Homo sapiens: one gene and its partner. The protein of the gene in region 1 purifies or fractionates together with the protein of each later gene. This does not show direct contact. Each region holds a gene or a part of one and is shown on either strand. Other genes may lie near its edges.

The links.
Region 2: the proteins of CCNF (region 1) and MYBBP1A purify together in Homo sapiens (affinity purification with mass spectrometry, with the first as the bait; 2 studies listed by BioGRID). This does not show direct contact.

What each region holds. Positions count from the first base shown.
Region 1 is NC_000016.10:2,431,983-2,440,097, forward strand, and holds part of CCNF (cyclin-F), read left to right. Parts: intron 1-978; coding exon 979-1,085; intron 1,086-3,823; coding exon 3,824-3,891; intron 3,892-5,146; coding exon 5,147-5,340; intron 5,341-6,087; coding exon 6,088-6,141; intron 6,142-7,370; coding exon 7,371-7,475; intron 7,476-7,766; coding exon 7,767-7,844; intron 7,845-8,115. UniProt on the Homo sapiens protein: Substrate recognition component of a SCF (SKP1-CUL1-F-box protein) E3 ubiquitin-protein ligase complex which mediates the ubiquitination and subsequent proteasomal degradation of target proteins.
Region 2 is NC_000017.11:4,537,722-4,545,610, forward strand, and holds the end of MYBBP1A (myb-binding protein 1A), read right to left. Parts: coding exon 7,889-7,889; intron 7,625-7,888; coding exon 7,538-7,624; intron 7,455-7,537; coding exon 7,305-7,454; intron 7,201-7,304; coding exon 7,030-7,200; intron 6,926-7,029; coding exon 6,768-6,925; intron 5,445-6,767; coding exon 5,192-5,444; intron 5,021-5,191; coding exon 4,895-5,020; intron 4,812-4,894; coding exon 4,743-4,811; intron 4,171-4,742; coding exon 4,063-4,170; intron 3,844-4,062; coding exon 3,742-3,843; intron 2,764-3,741; coding exon 2,627-2,763; intron 2,247-2,626; coding exon 1,694-2,246; 3' UTR 1,255-1,693; coding exon of another isoform or gene 1,219-1,254; 3' UTR 1,183-1,218; downstream 1-1,182. UniProt on the Homo sapiens protein: May activate or repress transcription via interactions with sequence specific DNA-binding proteins. Repression may be mediated at least in part by histone deacetylase activity (HDAC activity).

The sequences.
Region 1 (8,115 bases):
ACCACGCCCGGCTAATTTATTGTATTTTTAGTAGAGTTGGGGTTTCACTGTGTTAGCCAGGATGGTCTCTATCTCTTGACCTCGTGATCCGCCCGCCTCGGCCTCCCAAAGTGCTGGGATTACAGGCATGAGCCACTGCACCCGGCTGAAAGTACCCTTTTATGGCAGTGAAATTTGCATCCCTTAAAAAATAGGATAGTGTTTAAAAGAATAAGAATACATTCTTGAGGACAAATTCCATGTAACATTTAACACTGAAATGGACTCTAGGAGTTATTTTCTAGATATTGGAACCATAGGCTTACTTTGAGTGACTTAACCTAGAGTATATAGTGGATTCATGGGGAAATGCCAGCAAGAACCCATTTTCTGACTCCCAAAGCCACCTCCATTGCAGGTGCGACACACTTTATGGACCCCAGGGGGTGCTGAATTTCCAATGGCAGTGGAAACTTTGGTGCTTAAAGTGTTCACCTGTGCTCCAGGTCCTGGCCTGGACACTCCTGCGTTGGCCCAGCGCTTAGGCTCCGGGTTCTACCTGAGACCTCCATCATGGGTGTTGTTCTTTGCCCTGAGTCCCTGTGACCTGTTTCCACACTCCCACTAGCAAGGCCTCCAGCGGGGAAGCACAAAACACATTTCCGTCCTGCCTGCCCCCTTTTAGAGTGTTTCCCCTGTCTTTGGGGGTGATACCTTTGCAGGGATGTTGAACCCTCTTTCTCAGCCTAGGTGTTTGTTTCCTCCTTCCCAGATCATTGTCCTCTGCCCTGCTTTAGAACCTCAGAGAAACTCGTTTCTGGGCTCTTTTATCTGCTCAAAGTGACAGTTACTTTCACACAGAGATTGGGGACCTCAACTACTTGGGATGGCGAGGGAGACAGGAGACCCTACATCTGCCTCTCGTCCTCAAGAGCCTCCAGGTGTGGGGCTTTTGGGTGGTGCCTCCATCACCCAGCCCCGGCCCCCGTTGTTCTGCAGGTACACTCCCAGCTGAAGGACCTGGTGGACAACCACGCCAGTGTGTGGGCATGTGCCAGCTTCCAGGAGCTGTGGCCGTCTCCAGGGAACCTGAAGCTCTTTGAAAGGTATCTCTGCACCCTGAGAATGGCTCAGTCTTCTCCTGCCTTGGCCTCCCTATGTGCCAGTCTGTGTCTCACGGCCTGATTCAGCAACGATTTTCCTGTTGCTGTCTCCCATGACATTGCCTCATACCCTGGGGAGTGACTGAGGGTGGCAGACCTCACGCATCAGGCCGCACAAGCCACACACCTTCCAGCAGGCTATGCAGTCAGTCATCCCTCACGCCACTGACACGGGCCCGTGGTGCCTCCAGAGGGCTGTGATCCATTCCCACATGACCCAGACAAGAGTCACCTTCCTGTGGAAACTTCACTCAGCCTTCCTTCCCTTTGGTCAAAACCATCTGAATTCTATCCTATAGCGTTTCACTCACTGGCTGATCCCACCCCAACCTGCACCCCGCACCCTGGCCCCTGTTCACATGTGCTCATGGTCCCAGGTACCCGCCGCCCTCAGAACAAACCAAGGAACCACAGCTCAGGCGGGGATTTTTCTTTTTTGTTGTTGTTTTTTGTTTTTTGTTTTCGTTTTTGTTTTTTTCTTGAGACGGAGTCTCGCTCTGTCACCAGGCTGGAGTGCAGTGGTGCAATCTCAGCTCACTGCAACCACCAACTCCTGGTTCAAGCGATTCTCCTGCCTCAGCCTCCTGAGTAGCTAGGATTACAGGCACGCGCTACCACGCCCATCTAATTTTTGTATTCTTAGTAGAGATGGGGTTTCGCCATGTTGGCCAGGATGGTCTCGATCTCCTGACCTCCTGATCTCAGGCGGGCATTTTTCTGACAGGGATTCGCTGTGAGCCTCGTCCATCTGAGTTGCCAGAAATCCAGATCGACAGCCAACCAGGGCAGGCAGCCATGTTGCCGCGGCCATGCTTGGGCTGCTTCCAGGGGGAATGTATATATTTCTTATTGAGACATTATCCACACATCACACAATTCATCCATTTAAAGTGTATAACTCAGCCGGGTGTGGCGTCACACCTGTATTCCCAGCACTTTGGGAGGCCAAGGCGGGTGGATCACTTGAGGTCGGGAGTTCGAGACCAGCCCGGCCAACATGGCAAAACCCTGTCTCTATTAAAAATACAAAAATTAGCTGGATGCGGTGATGGGCACTTGTAGTCCCAGCTACTCTGGAGGCTGAAGCATGAGAATTGCTTAAACCCAGCAGGTGGAGGTTGCAGTGAGCCAAGATTGCGCCATTGCACTCCAGCCTGGGTGATGGGGTAAGACTGTCTCAAAAAAATAATAATAAAATAATAAAATATGGCTGGGCACAGTGGCTCACGCCTGTAATCCCAGCACTTTGGGAGACCAAGGCGGGCGGATCACGAGGTCAAGAGTTTGAGACCAGCCTGAGCAACATGGTGAAACCCTGTCTCTACTAAAAATACAAAAATTAGCTGGGTGGTGGCACATGCCTGTAATGCCAGCTATTCAGGAGGCTGAGGCAGGAGAATTGCTTGAACCCAGGAGGCAGAGGTTGCAGTGAGCCGAGATCGCACCACTGCACTCCAGCCTGAGCAACAGAGCGAGACTCCGTCTCAAAATAAATAAATAAGTAAATAAATAAATAAAATGTATAACTCATTGGTTTTTAGTATACTGAGAGTTGTACAGACATCACCAGTACTTAACTTTAGAACGTTCTCCTTACCCCAAGAAGAAAGCTTGTCCCCATCAGCAGTCACTTCCCATTTTCCCCACAATCCTGGAAACTCTAGACAACCCCTAATTGATTTTCTGTCTCTCCGGATTTGCCTTTTGTGAGGATTTCACATGGAATCATGCAACACGTGGTCTTTCGTGGCTGGCTTCTTTCACGGACCCTGATGTTTTCAAGGTTCATCTGTGTCATAGCATGTAATGGATAATTCGTATTTGATTACATGTTATTAAGAAATGTTCGACCGAGCGTGGTGGCTCACGCTTGTAATCCCAGCACTTTGGGAGGCCGAGGCGGGTGGATCATGAGATCAGATCGAGACCATCCTGGCTAACATGGTGAAACCCCGTCTCTACTAAAAATAGAAAAAATTAGACAGGCGTGGTGGCGGGCACCTGTGGTCCCAGCTACTCGGGAGGCTGAGGCAGGAGAATGGTGTGAACCTGGGAGGCGGAGCTTGTAGTGAGCCGAGATTGCGCCACTGCACTCCAGCCTGGGCAACAGAGCAGACTCCGTCTCAAAAAAAAAAAAGAAAAGAAAAGAAAAAAAAAAAGAAATGTTCTAGAGCCGGGCATGATGGCTCAAGCCTATAATCCCAGCACTTTATGAGGCCAAGGCAGGAGGATCACTTGGGTCTGGAATTCAAGACTAGCCTGGGCAACATAGCAAGACCCTGTCTCTAGAAAAGAAAATATTTTTTTTTGACTAGCTGAGCATGGTGGCACATGCCTGTAGTCCTAGCTACTTGGGATGCCGGGGTGGGAGAATGGCTTAAGCCCAGGAGGTTGAGGCTGCAGTGAGCTGTGATCGCACCACTGCACTCCAGCCTGGGCAACAGAGCAAGACCCTGTCTCAGAGAGAGAGAGATATATATATATATATGCACACACACACACACATATATATGCACACACATATATATATGCACACACACACATATATATATATATATATATATATATATATATATATATTCAATTCAGGGAACAAGTATTCTGACTTCTTCAAGTGCTGTAGTAGTTCATAACGTTTGTGGCATAAAATATTGTGATGCTTTATGTTCTTAATGTTTCAGGGCTGCTGAAAAGGGGAATTTCGAAGCTGCTGTGAAGCTGGGCATAGCCTACCTCTACAATGAAGGCCGTAAGTCCTCACCCCACCTGCATGTTGGCGCTTCAGATAAGTGTGAGCCTTTGGCCCTATGAAGAAGTGGTCCCCGTGTTAGCAGTTCAGTTGCTGTCCTTGCTCTATCCGATGGCCTGCCTCCCCATTCCCTCTCAGGAGCTCGTGCCCAGATGTACCCTGCTGAGGGACCTGCTAATGATACTCTGACTTTGCAGGTTACGAAAGTCGCCTCTTGTTTTAGCAAACCCTTTAATTTCAGTTGGCAAAGAGTGACTGAGCCAGAGCCTCAGCACGGGGGCTGTTTGGGCTCCCTGCCCTGTGCGCCATGAGCACGCAGACCTGCCTGTGGATGCTGGCCCTCTCCTTGGCCATCCTCTTAGAACTCTCGAGACAGAGTTCAGCGTGCCCTGTAACACAGAGCCAGGCTTCTAAACGGGAAGCAGGTACAGGCAGGTTAGAACTGGCCTGGTGCCTGGATCCCTTCATCCCCAGAGGCCAGGTGCTCCTTGAAAGAAACTTGCGCAGCCTTTTCTTCTACCAGTTAACTGCTTATCTGCTCAGCACCCCAAGGAACGAGCCCATGATCTGTCCCAGCTCTCAAAACAAGTAAACACTGGGATGTAGCCTCCCACATTTGTACTTCTAAACGATCTGGTGTCTTGCTGGGAGAGAGTCCCTACCTGGCCGGCTGGCAGAATTGTGACTGACAGGGACCATGAGCAACACCCTCCTCCAGAATCAGGGGAGCCGAGGTCCTACCCCTACCCTCCCATCAAAGAGCAGTTCCCAGACATAAAATTCACACACCATACAGTTCACCCCTCTAAAGCCTGCAATTCTGTGGTTTTTTAGGATATTCACAGGGTTGTGCAGCCATTGCCACTGTCTAATTTTAGAATATTCTCCTCGTCCCAAAAAGAACCCCCACCCCTGCCCTGGACCCATTACCAGGGGTCAGGCGGTGGTTCCCAGCTGGAGGGAGGGTGGGACATGAAGCGTCGCGGGGTCTCCTTCCCCTGACCTTCAGAATCCAGGCTTCCGGGAGGACCACAGCAGGGGCATTGATCACAATGACCCACCTGTTCTAGACATTAATGAAGTAGGGGGAGAAAAGACAGGTGCCCCCATCCTGGAGGGCTCTACTCTCCTGAAACACAGCTGCTTTGCACTATGGTGGGCTTCAGGCATTACACTTTCCACCAAGACCATGGAGAGCTTTCCACATTCCGTCCCTAAGAGACATCCCTGGGCTCTGTCCTGTCTGTCCCCGCAGTGTCTGTGTCTGATGAGGCCCGCGCAGAAGTGAATGGCCTGAAGGCCTCTCGCTTCTTCAGTCTCGCTGAGCGGCTGAATGTGGGTGCCGCACCTTTCATCTGGCTCTTCATCCGCCCTCCGTGGTCGGTGAGCGGAAGCTGCTGCAAGGCCGTGGTTCACGAGAGCCTCAGGGCAGAGTGCCAGCTGCAGAGGGTGAGTCTGGGCGAGGGGCAGCACCTGCGAGGCCACCTGCAGGGTCCCAGGACACAGGAAGACCCCGAGGGTAGATCCTGGACCCTGGAAAGTCAGGAGCCTAAGGGAAGTGAAGATGCAGAAAACTGAGAGTGCAGATATGGGGAACGCATCTGGAAATCAGCTGGCACAGAGGAGGAAGCCTGAGAGCCAGGGTGGGCTGTGGAGTTCTGGGTACACGTGCTGACAGCTGGAAACATGGGGCTGAGGCTGCATGGGGCAGTGGGAGCTCAAGACACAAATCTGGCCAGGTGTGGTGGCTCACGCCTGTCATCCTAGCACTTTGGGAGGCCGAGGCTGGAGAATTGCTTGTGGCCAGGTGTTCGAGACCAGTCTGGGCAACATGATGAAATCTCGAAACCTCGTCTCTACAAAAAATACAAAAAAGTTAGCCAGGGGTGGTGGTGCATACCTATAGTCCCAGCTACTCAGGAGGCTGCGGTGGGAGGATCGCTTGAGCCTGGGAGGTTGAGCTTGCAATGAGCCGTGACTATGCCAATGCACTCCAGCCTGGGTGACAGAGCAAGACCCTGTTTCCCTTTAAAAAAAAAAAAAAAAAAAGACTGAAATCTGGGAGTGGCCCTCTGCAGGGGAGGGAGGGCCAGACAGCAGGGCCATGGGCATGGGACCCAAAGACAGACAAGGGAGTGGTGGCCCCCGGGCAGTTCTCTGTGCTGGAAATCACACTTCTTTCTCCTTTTTTTAAAGACTCACAAAGCATCCATATTGCACTGCTTGGGCAGAGTGCTGAGTCTGTTCGAGGTGAGTCAAGTTGTTCTCTGCACTGGGACTTTGTGTTCGATACATCCCTAGCCGAGATCCTGGAACTGAAAAGCAGCAGAAGGGGGTGTCCAAGGCCCAAAACAAAAGGCAAGCCTTGCCCAGAAAGGCCTAGCTGGAGAAGCCAGGGGACACATGTGGGCCTGGCCACGGGCTCCGATCCTGGCTCCATGACCCGCCTGGCAGGGGAGTGGGGGACGGTGAGAACAGCAGAGCAGATCTCAAGGAGGCATCGAACCTCGATGCTCACTCGTCTGCTGGCCCTGCTCCTCGTGGGCCTCTCCTGCTCGTGTGGACCTCTCTGCCTGGCCAAAATGGTGAAACCACGTCTTTACTAAAAAACACAAAAATTAGCTGGGCGTGGTGGCGGGTGCCCATAATCCCAGCTACTCAGGAGGCTGAGGCAGGGAGAATTGCTTGAACCTGGGAAGCGGAGGTTGCAGTGAGCCGAGATTGCACCACTGCACTCCAGCCTGGCAACAGAGTGAGACTCAGTCTCAGAAAAAAAAAAAAAAAGTATGGAAAAGGAGGAAGATGGTGAGTAGAGTGATTGAACATCAAGTAAAGAATAAGGGCCGGTCATGGTGGCTCATTCCTGTAATCCCAGCACCTTGGGAGGCCGAGGCGGGTGGATCACCTGAGGTCAGGAGTTTGAGACCAACCTGGCCAATGTGTTGAAACCACGTCTTTACTAAAAAACACAAAAATTAGCCGGGCATGGTGGTGGGCACCTGTAATCCTAGCTACTTGGGAGGCTGAGGCATGAGAGTTGCTTGAACCCGGGAAGCTGAGGTTTTAGTTAGCCAAGATCGTGCCACTATACTTTGGCCTGGGTGACAGAGGGAGACTCTGCCTCAACAACAACAAAAAAACCAGCCAGGCACAGTGGCTCATGCCTGTAATCCCAGCACTTTGGGAGACTGAGGTGGGTGGATCACCTGAGGCCAGGATTTTGAGACCAGCCTGGCCAACATGGTGAAACCCCGTCTCTACTAAAAATACAAAAATTAGCCGGGCATGATGGTGGGCTCCTGTAATCCCAGCTACTCAGGAGGCTGAGGCAGGAGAATTGGTTGAACCCAGGAGGCGGAGGTTGCAGTGAGCCAGGATGGCGCCATTGCACTCCAACCTGGGCGACGAGTGAAACTGTCTCAAAAAATAAAAATGAAAAAGAATAAGGGAACAATGAACTCTGCTGGGATTTATTCTAGGATGAGGAGAAGCAGCAGCAGGCCCATGACCTGTTTGAGGAGGCTGCTCATCAGGGATGTCTGACCAGCTCCTACCTCCTCTGGGAAAGCGACAGGAGGACAGATGTGAGTGGTGCCTGCTCTGGGTCGGGGGGAGTTATGCTGGACAAAGGCGTAGTTGATGCTGGTCCTTGGATGCGTTTCTGTCCACAAAAGGGAGGTGGCTCTTGCTGCTCCCGGTCTCTCAGCCTCCGGGAACCACTGGTCAGTCGGCTATTCTTGGTACCCCCAAAAATGACTCCACCATTTGAGAGAGAAGAGGTGGGAAGTTAGCGTAGTGTCGGCCCTTCTGGGTCTTGGTTCTGAGTTCCTCCCAAGACACAGTTGTACAAAGGCTCGGTGATCTCCCATTGACAGGTGTCAGATCCTGGGCGATGCCTCCACAGCTTCCGAAAACTCAGGGACTACGCTGCCAAAGGCTGCTGGGAAGCGCAGGTGAGGTGCGGGGCTGGGATGACGTGGGGAGCTGGCCTTTCTCCCTCCAGCCTTGGGGCAGGACTATCTGGGCTCCCACATTGGGGGGCAGGACTATCTGGGCTCCCACATGGGAGGCCAGGATTGAGGGACACCCTAAGATCGGTTCAGCACTGGAACTGGTCCTAAAGGACAGGTACACTGTGAGAAGAGCTGGGAAATGCGTTATTCATCTCTGCCTATCCACTCTTGCCTCTCAGCCAGCCAACCTCTTAATTTTCAAATGCTTGTG
Region 2 (7,889 bases), on another chromosome or scaffold:
GACAGCCCCAAGTGGGTGTCCGGGGAGAGCCTGGCCTGCCACCAGCTTATGTGATCTTGGGCAAGTCCCTGCCCTCCCTGGAACGAAGGGCCAGGGGGCTGGACTTTCCCACACAACTTGCTGGGCAAAGCACGATCTGCAGCTTTGAAGACTCAACAGACCCTGGACCATACGGAGAGCAGGTGGCCCAGGCCTCAGGGCGGCAGTCCCGGCTTTGAGGCTCACGCGAGGGCCTGGTATGCAGGGACCACTGCTCAGCTGGGCCTCGGACCTTGGGGATATTGGACGCAACCTGGCAAATGAAGCTGGGCGCCCAAGTCTCTGGGTACTCCCTGGAGGACACTGTCTCACTGTCTCGGGTTGGCTCCCAGCCTGGAGGTCCCAGATGGGGACTGTTCTGACAAGCTGGCATCACCAGGGGTGAAGGCCCTGGCTGCAGCTGTACACCACCTGTGCCCCCAGGCTCAAGGTCTCTGGCAGGTGCACACCAGCCCAACTCTGCAGGGCTTCTCTCCCTGCCACCACCCCCCAAGCCAGGACCCCACTCCTTCCCCGAGGCTGAGCTGAGCCTTTTCCAGGGGCAGGGCCCAGGAGACCATTCCCAGAATCCATGGGGCAGTAGCCAGGGCTCCGGCTGCTGGAGGAAGCAGCTATCCACAAAGCTTCCTGCCCCAGAGCTGAGGCTGAGGCCCCGGGAGAGGCGGCCCCTACCCAAACACTGGCTGCTGGCATTCCACCAAGTGACCCCAGGGGGGGGCCAGGCCTTCGATCACCCACCTCCCATCCATGCACACACCAGGATGCAGCTGCCAACTTCACACCAGCCCCAACCCGCTTTGGGGGAGCTTAGCCCCCTGCGTCACCCACTCCCTGCACTTCTGCTGCAATCAAGGTGGTTCTGGTGCGGGGGTGGGGTGGGGGGTGAGGCCTTGTGGCCAATGGGGGACCCCCCAAGAGCCAGCTTGGACAATGCTCTTCTTGCCCCTTAGTTACTGGCTGGCTGTGGCTTCAGTGGTGTGTAAGCAGGTGGAATACTCACCCACCAAGCTCTGGGGTACCCCGAGGGCCTGACAAGAGGATGGGGTGGGGGTGGCATCCTCCAAAGACCAGCCTCCACCCCCACTCCAGCCTCAGCGGGGCCCCAGCGATGTTTTCTTGTTGTACAAGAACCAGGTCCGAGTGTTGCCTCCTCTTCCTTCCGGAAGCCAAACTGCTCCTTTATTTTTTAGAGCTGCTGATTGTGAATCTCAGAGTCTTAAGAGAGAAGCCAAATATATTCCTCTTGTAAATGAAGAAATAAACCTATTTAAATCACCCCCTGGTGGCTCCCTCACAGCAAAAAAGCCTGGGGGCAAAGAGGTGGCAGGCACGAGAGATGGTCACACCTGCCTGCAGCCAGCACATCAACCTGCACCAACCCAGGCAAACACCAGAGCCCTGGACATGGCCCTGGAGCCAGGGTCCCAGCCCAGAACCGGGGGTGGGGAGGTCTCTGCACCCTGGGACCCCTGCAGGAATGGCTCAGGCTGTGCTTGCCAGAGCAGGATGCCCGGGCAGGCGGCAACAGCCACCCTCCCCAGTGGCAGCGCCTTAGAAACAGCTTGCGTATTAAAATCATGGTTTAAAAAAAAAAAAAAAAAATAGGCGTCTCAGGCAGATGGAGGCAGGGGCTGAGGGGGGCCCGTACCTGTGCTCAGGGCTTCCCTGCCTTCCTCACCTGTGCTTTCTTCTTGGCCCCACTCTGAAGCAGGCTGGGACTCCTGATGACCAAAGACAGCCTTGCCTTTTTCCGTGCCAGCGCGGACAGTGGTGATTTGCCCAAGACCCCCTTTTTGGGAAGAGCCTTCTGATGCTGCTTTTGGCCTGCAGGTTCCGTGGGGGACCCGGGAGCTCCATTCACCTGGGACGGCTTCTGGTTTTTCTTCTGCAGTTTTGGGGATTTGGCAGGGGTGCTGGGGCTCCGGGTGGGGGCGCCAGGGGCTGGACTCTTGGTGGTTGGCGTCCCGTTTGCCTGGGCTGGGACCTTAGCCTTTGTCCTGTTCCTCTTCTTCCTGCCCATGCTGGGGGGCTGGCTCCCGCCGGTGGCTGCAGGTGTGCCATCCTCCGCTGGCGTGCCATCCTCTGACTTGCGTTTCTTGCGCTTCTTCGTCTCTGGCAAGAATCCCTTTTTCTTCCGCTTCTTACTGATGGGGCTCTGGGTGGCACTGGGGATCTCCTTGGCATCCTTCTTCTCCAACTTGGGGCGCCTGAAGGGAAGTGAGCAAGGTTAGAAGGTGCCCATCGAGGGCAGCAGCCACCGCCACCGCGACTGCTACCTCCACCTGGATTCTGAGGGTCCTCTGAGGCCCCTAGGTTCTGTGAGGCCCCTATGAGGGTCCCGTGAGGGTCCTATGAGGGTCCTGCGAGGCCCCTGGGTCCTGCGAGGGTCCTGCGAGGCTCCTGCGAGGGTCCTGTGAGGGTCCTACAGCTCCCACATCTGAGAATGCGCTTGAGTGCATGTGTGTGCAGCAGCATGCGTGTGCAGTGTGCGTGTGCAGCAGCGTGTGTGCAGCGTGTGTGTGTGTGCAGCAGCGTGAGGGTGTTCCCAGCCCCTACCCAAGGTGTGTGTCCCCCTCCCAGAACCTACTGGACTCCCAGGGTTTTCATGGCCTGCCAGTAGAGGTCGTGCAGGCGGCTGGAGCCGGTGGAGTGTGCCCCCTGCTGTAGGCTCTGCTGTTGCCCCTGCAGCACACCCAGGAGCACCGTCAGGTCCAAGGTCAGCTTCTGCAGAGGGTGGGAAGGCAGAGCTGTGGGGCCACAGAGGGCGGGGCCTCTCGCGGGCTCCCAGTCTTCCCACCTCTGCCCTGTTGCTGCCTCACCAGTGACCCCTGCCCCTTCCTGGGCCTCAGCCTCTCCTTCTGCCTGTTAAGTCATCCGTGTCTCTTACCGAGGGAGGAAACACGCGCCCCAGGTGTTGGTTCTCCTCCTTCCCATAGCCAAAGGCCTGGTCTCAGAGTCTCGGTGTCCTCCCCTCCAGCAGTGGCCCGGGCCCACCCACCTCCAAGAGGGCCACTCCCCAGCACTCCATCACCGCGGGGCTGCCAAAGCGCTTCCCCACCCAACCCTGCCACCTTCCTGCACATCCTGAATGGGTTATTGTTGGAATCCGCCAGCTTCCGGGAGCCCTGCTCTCCTGGCTTCCTCACTATCAGCCAGTTTTGTAAGGCCCCGTCCCGGGCCCCGCCTCTGCCTGCCAGCACCCCCTTGGCAAGCTCTCCCTCCACAAGGGCTGACTAGCACCTATGCTGAAGATTCCCAAACCCCGCCCTCTGGGCCAGACCGGGGGACCCAGATGGCCACCTCCAGCTGCCTCCCAGCCCTGCCCTGATGGCTGCCCACACTCCTGTACCAGGCCTGGAAACCTGGCTGCTCACCCTGAATCTTCTCCAACCCTTCCACAGTCTCCAGCCCTGCCAGCCCCTTCTCGGCTTTCTCACGGGATGTGGCAGTGCCACCCCACCCCCTCTCACCCCGCCCTGCAGGAGGAGGACAGGGTGGCACAGTCCCTTCCCAAGTCACTCACCCATCCATGGTTTGGTAACTGCCCAAATGGCAGCCCAGAGCCCTGGCCCAGGCACTGAGAAGTTTCCCCACATGACCCCCATCCCTGCAGTCCAGCCCGGGCATGGCACTGCTGGCCGGGAGGCCCCAAGGCCCCCAAGAGGAACCCGAACACGACCGCGGACTGGGCCCCCGCCTCACCTCATGTTTGCAGGTCCTGAAGAGAACGTTGAGCAGCTCCAGGGAGGACAGTGCCTGCTGATGCTGCGCCTTGGTCTGCGCCTCCCCCAGCACGCGCAAGTTCTAGGGAAGGGTGGCCAGGCTGAGGCACTCCGGAGAGCTGCTCAAAGCCTTTCTGTTTCCCAGCCGGAAGTAAAGCCCAGAGGCAGGGACCGTCTCCTGGGACAACCCCAGTTCTCCCGACTCTGGACTCAGGCTCCAATCCTCACTTCTTTCCCAGAGATCGGTCTCCCGGAGAACTGATTCTGAGGGGGTGGGGAAAGGGCGCCCCCCGGCTGTTACCTCGGTGACCTTTGCTAGGACCTGGCCCATCAGCTGCTTCCACTCGGGGTCCTCAAAGCACGACCTCACCTCCCGCATGGACAGGGTCTTCTGGAGCAGCAGGCAGGCCTGTGGGTGGGCAAAGGTGGGTGGCAGGAGCCTTGGCACGTTGGGTGCTCACGGCTCAGGGATGCATGAGGGCTCGGGGGCCCGCTGGGCACTGCTGTGGGCAGCGTGTGAGGCTGCCTGCTGCTCTGGGCTCTGTGACTACCTGCTCCTGTGCCTTTGTGTGCAGGTGGGGACACCAAGGCCTCCCAGCTGGATAGAGGTGGGACCTCAGGTTGGGACAATTCCTGCCCATTATTGGCTTAGTGCCATCTTCCTCCAGCCTGCCCCCAACAGCCCTGGCACCAGAGCAGACACTACCAGGGGCATCCTGTGTGTGGCCAGATGGGCAGCAGTGGCTGCGGGAGTGAGGCTGGCCCTGCCCCCTCAGCTCCTGTGTGTTCACTGTGTGGCAGGGGCCAGGGCACGGCCACCCCCTTCAGAGACCATGTACCCACAGCCAAGCCAGTGGGGCAGGGACAGCTGTGCCCGTGCTCACCAGGACAGCGCTCTGGGGCCTCACAATATCCAGTCAGAAGAGGGTTAAGCGGGTTAATTCAGACAGGCCCTGGGCTGGGAGCTGGGAAGTCTCTCACCTGATGACGGGGCCGCACCGGGCCCGTGATATGCTGGACCAGGATGGGGAGCAGGCTCTGACAGAGCACCTGGTGGGGAGTGACAAGGGCTGTGAGGTGCAGGCTGGGCTGAGCAGGGACCATGAGGAAGCAGGGCAGGCCCCAACACTCACCGGGTGCCGGGAGAAGAGGCTGAGGAACATGGGAACTGTGAGGGGGCTGTTGCGCTTGGTCAGGAAGGAGCTCAGTGCTGTCGAGTACACCCGGGTCACCAGGTTCAAGTCCAAGCAGCTGGCAGCCTAGGCCAGGGGAGAGCGAGCTGGGTGAGGCCAGGAGAGGGGTCCCTGGGATGGGAGCAGAGCCTGGCCTACCTTCATCAGAAGGCTGAGGGTTGGGCCCTGGGGAAGTCCCGGCCTCCACTCCCTGGCTGTGAAATGCCTGGGGCTGCTCCTGGGCCAGGCCCTGCTCACCTGCGGGCCCGTGGGCATGTGGCTGGGGTCAGTGCCAGCTTTCTGCTTCTCCTGTGTCTCATGCACGCAGCCCTCAGCAGTGTTGCCCTTCAAGACCCGGAGCAGGTAGAGAGAGGCGTTGAAGTGGTAGAGGGCGGTGGGGGAGTCGGGCTGGCGGCCAGCCTGCTGCACCAACCGCTCCACCTGGGCGTGCAGGGCCCCTGCGCGCTCACCCAAGTCGTGGCAGTAGCGCCGGGCACGGCACAGGTGGTGCCTGTGGGTGGTGAGGACGAGAGCTGGTCAGAACATTCTCGGTCCACCCTGCTCCGCCAAGCAGAGCCAACCCAAGTCCCACTTTATAAGTGGGGAAACAGACCTAGAAGACGACAGAGGCGACCCAGGCCACAGAGGAGGGCCCAGGGCCGCCTGCAGGCTGCCTGGAAGCTGTGTGGGCTCAGAGTGCTGGGGTGACAGGGGCGCTCCAGGGGAGAACAGAACAGCTCCCTGAGTGGAGGCTGCACCAAGGGCCAACTGCCTGCCTGGGGCACCCCTCCTGTCTACACTTGTCTCTCATGGGGCAGTGGCCTTCAGGCCTTTTGTAAAGCGAGACAAGGGTTCATGTGCTTAGAACCCTCTGTGGCCCTGCAGGGCCGGGGATATAATGGGGGCAAGAGGCAGGATGCTCAACAAACGACACTGTCCACGCACGCTGGCAGAACTATCTGAGAAGGCGTGGCCCGGGCGGGCCTGGGTTTGTGAAGAATGCACTGCCAGTCACACTCCCCACCCCTCCTGACTATCCACGCAGCGCCCCAGCTCCCAGGCCTTCACCTCCCCAGCACCTGAGCTCTGAAGGCAGGTCTACCAGGTGCCTGCCTGTCTCTCCCACGCCTGCCACCGCCTCCCTCCTGGGCCCTCTGCCTCCAGCACAGCCCCTCCCAAACCCTTCTCCACGCTGCCAGCCGTTTCTGAAAAGGCAAACCAGACTCAGACCCTTCCCCACGCCACTGCTCTTGCTGATAATGCCTCTGTGGCCTCCAGCACCGCTAGGGTCAGGGCCTGCGAGGGTGCGGGGGTCTGTGGCCTCGCTGCTTGCCTGACCTTCCAGCTGCGTGTCTGACCAGCTCCCGTCAGGATGCTCTTCCTCCCTTTCTGCCCTGCCCAAGGCCTCCCAGCCTGACAAACTCCCATGCACACTACACCTCCGAGGACTGGGTTGGGTGTCCCCTGCCACAGGTGCACCCACTGTCCCCCTCCACCCCAGCACAGCCCCACTTGAGACTGTCAAGGGCAGGGATGGACCCCAGCTCCAGGGCACTGTTGGCACAGCCCCACTTGAGACTGTCAAGGGCAGGGATGGACCCCAGCTCCAGGGCACTGTTGGCACTGTGTCGGGAGAACGCGGGGATGAAGCAAGGACTGTGGGAATCACTAAGTGACGTGTGCCTCTAGGGCTGAGCAGTGAGCCTGCGAGCTAGGGGCCCAGGCTGGAAGCTTGGCTCTCTCCTTCCTGTGCAGACAGCAAGCCTAGAGCTCTGGCTCTCCTGCGCCTGGGGGCTGCCGGCCACACCTGCCCGCCCTGCACCCCCGTGCTCACGTGAAGATGCGCGCCGTCTTGTGCAGAAGGTCCTGCTCCTGTTTGGAGCTGCTGCTGCGCAGGCTGCGCCGGATGATGCTCAGCAGCGGCTCCAGCAGCTCCAGGACCAGGGCATTCTCGGGCTGCTTGGTCACTAGCACCTCCACCAGGTCCAGCACCTGCAGCCAGGAGGGCAGGTCAGCAACACGGGGGTGGGCGCACAGGGAGGCGGGGGTGGGCGCACAGGGAGGCGGGGGTGGGTGCGGCCCGCCCCCAGGCTCACCCGGATCTGGAAGTCGCGCCGCAGAGCCTTCTCCTTCTGCAGCTTGTTCTTCTCGTCTCGCCGGGCCTGGATACGCAGCTTCTGCTCGGCAAAGAGGCTGGCGAGGCTCTGGTCCAGGGCCATCATGGCCTCATCCCCCAGCTCCTCCTCGTTCTCACTGTCCTCTCCACCCTGAGGGACAGAGGCCCAGCGGTCAGCCAGGCCTCGGGCAGGCACACAACATGGGGACACCCGAGCCCTCCCCGGCCGCCCCCCCCTCCACCTCCCCCACTCACCAGCGCCTTCCCAGCCTGCAGCACGGTCATCAGCTGTTCCCGGAAGCCCTGATCCACGTCCCCGTCGCGCTCCTCCTCCTCGCTCTCCTCCCCCTCGCTCTCCTCTTCACTCTCTGAGCTTCTGTTGTCCTCACCTTCCTCGCTCTTGTCCTGTGTGGTAGAGGCAGGCGCGTCACACACCTCCCCGATCGTCCCACTCCCCACCGCCCCCGCCCGGCCCATGCTGGCAACACCTCTGCACCCTTCAGCCGCCGCTCATCAGAATCGTCCGTCACCACCACACGGTCATTCTCATCCTCACTGGTCTCGGGGTTCAGCACCTGGGGAGGGGTGCCAGCCACTGACCCATTTGCAGCCCCCGCCCTCCTCTCCAGGCCCCACTCAGCCTTGACCAAAGACCTCCATTTCCCAGAAGAAAACGGAGCCTAGGAGAGGCGGCCAGGCCAGGCCAAGGCCTCGTTGAGACCCCTCCCACCGGCCGCAGGCTCCCGGCAGGGAGGCTGGAGGCTGAAGCGGCACCCCTGGTGCAGCTCGCTGCTCAGTGAGCCCCAGCCCACATTCCACTCCCAAAGGTCCCAACTCACA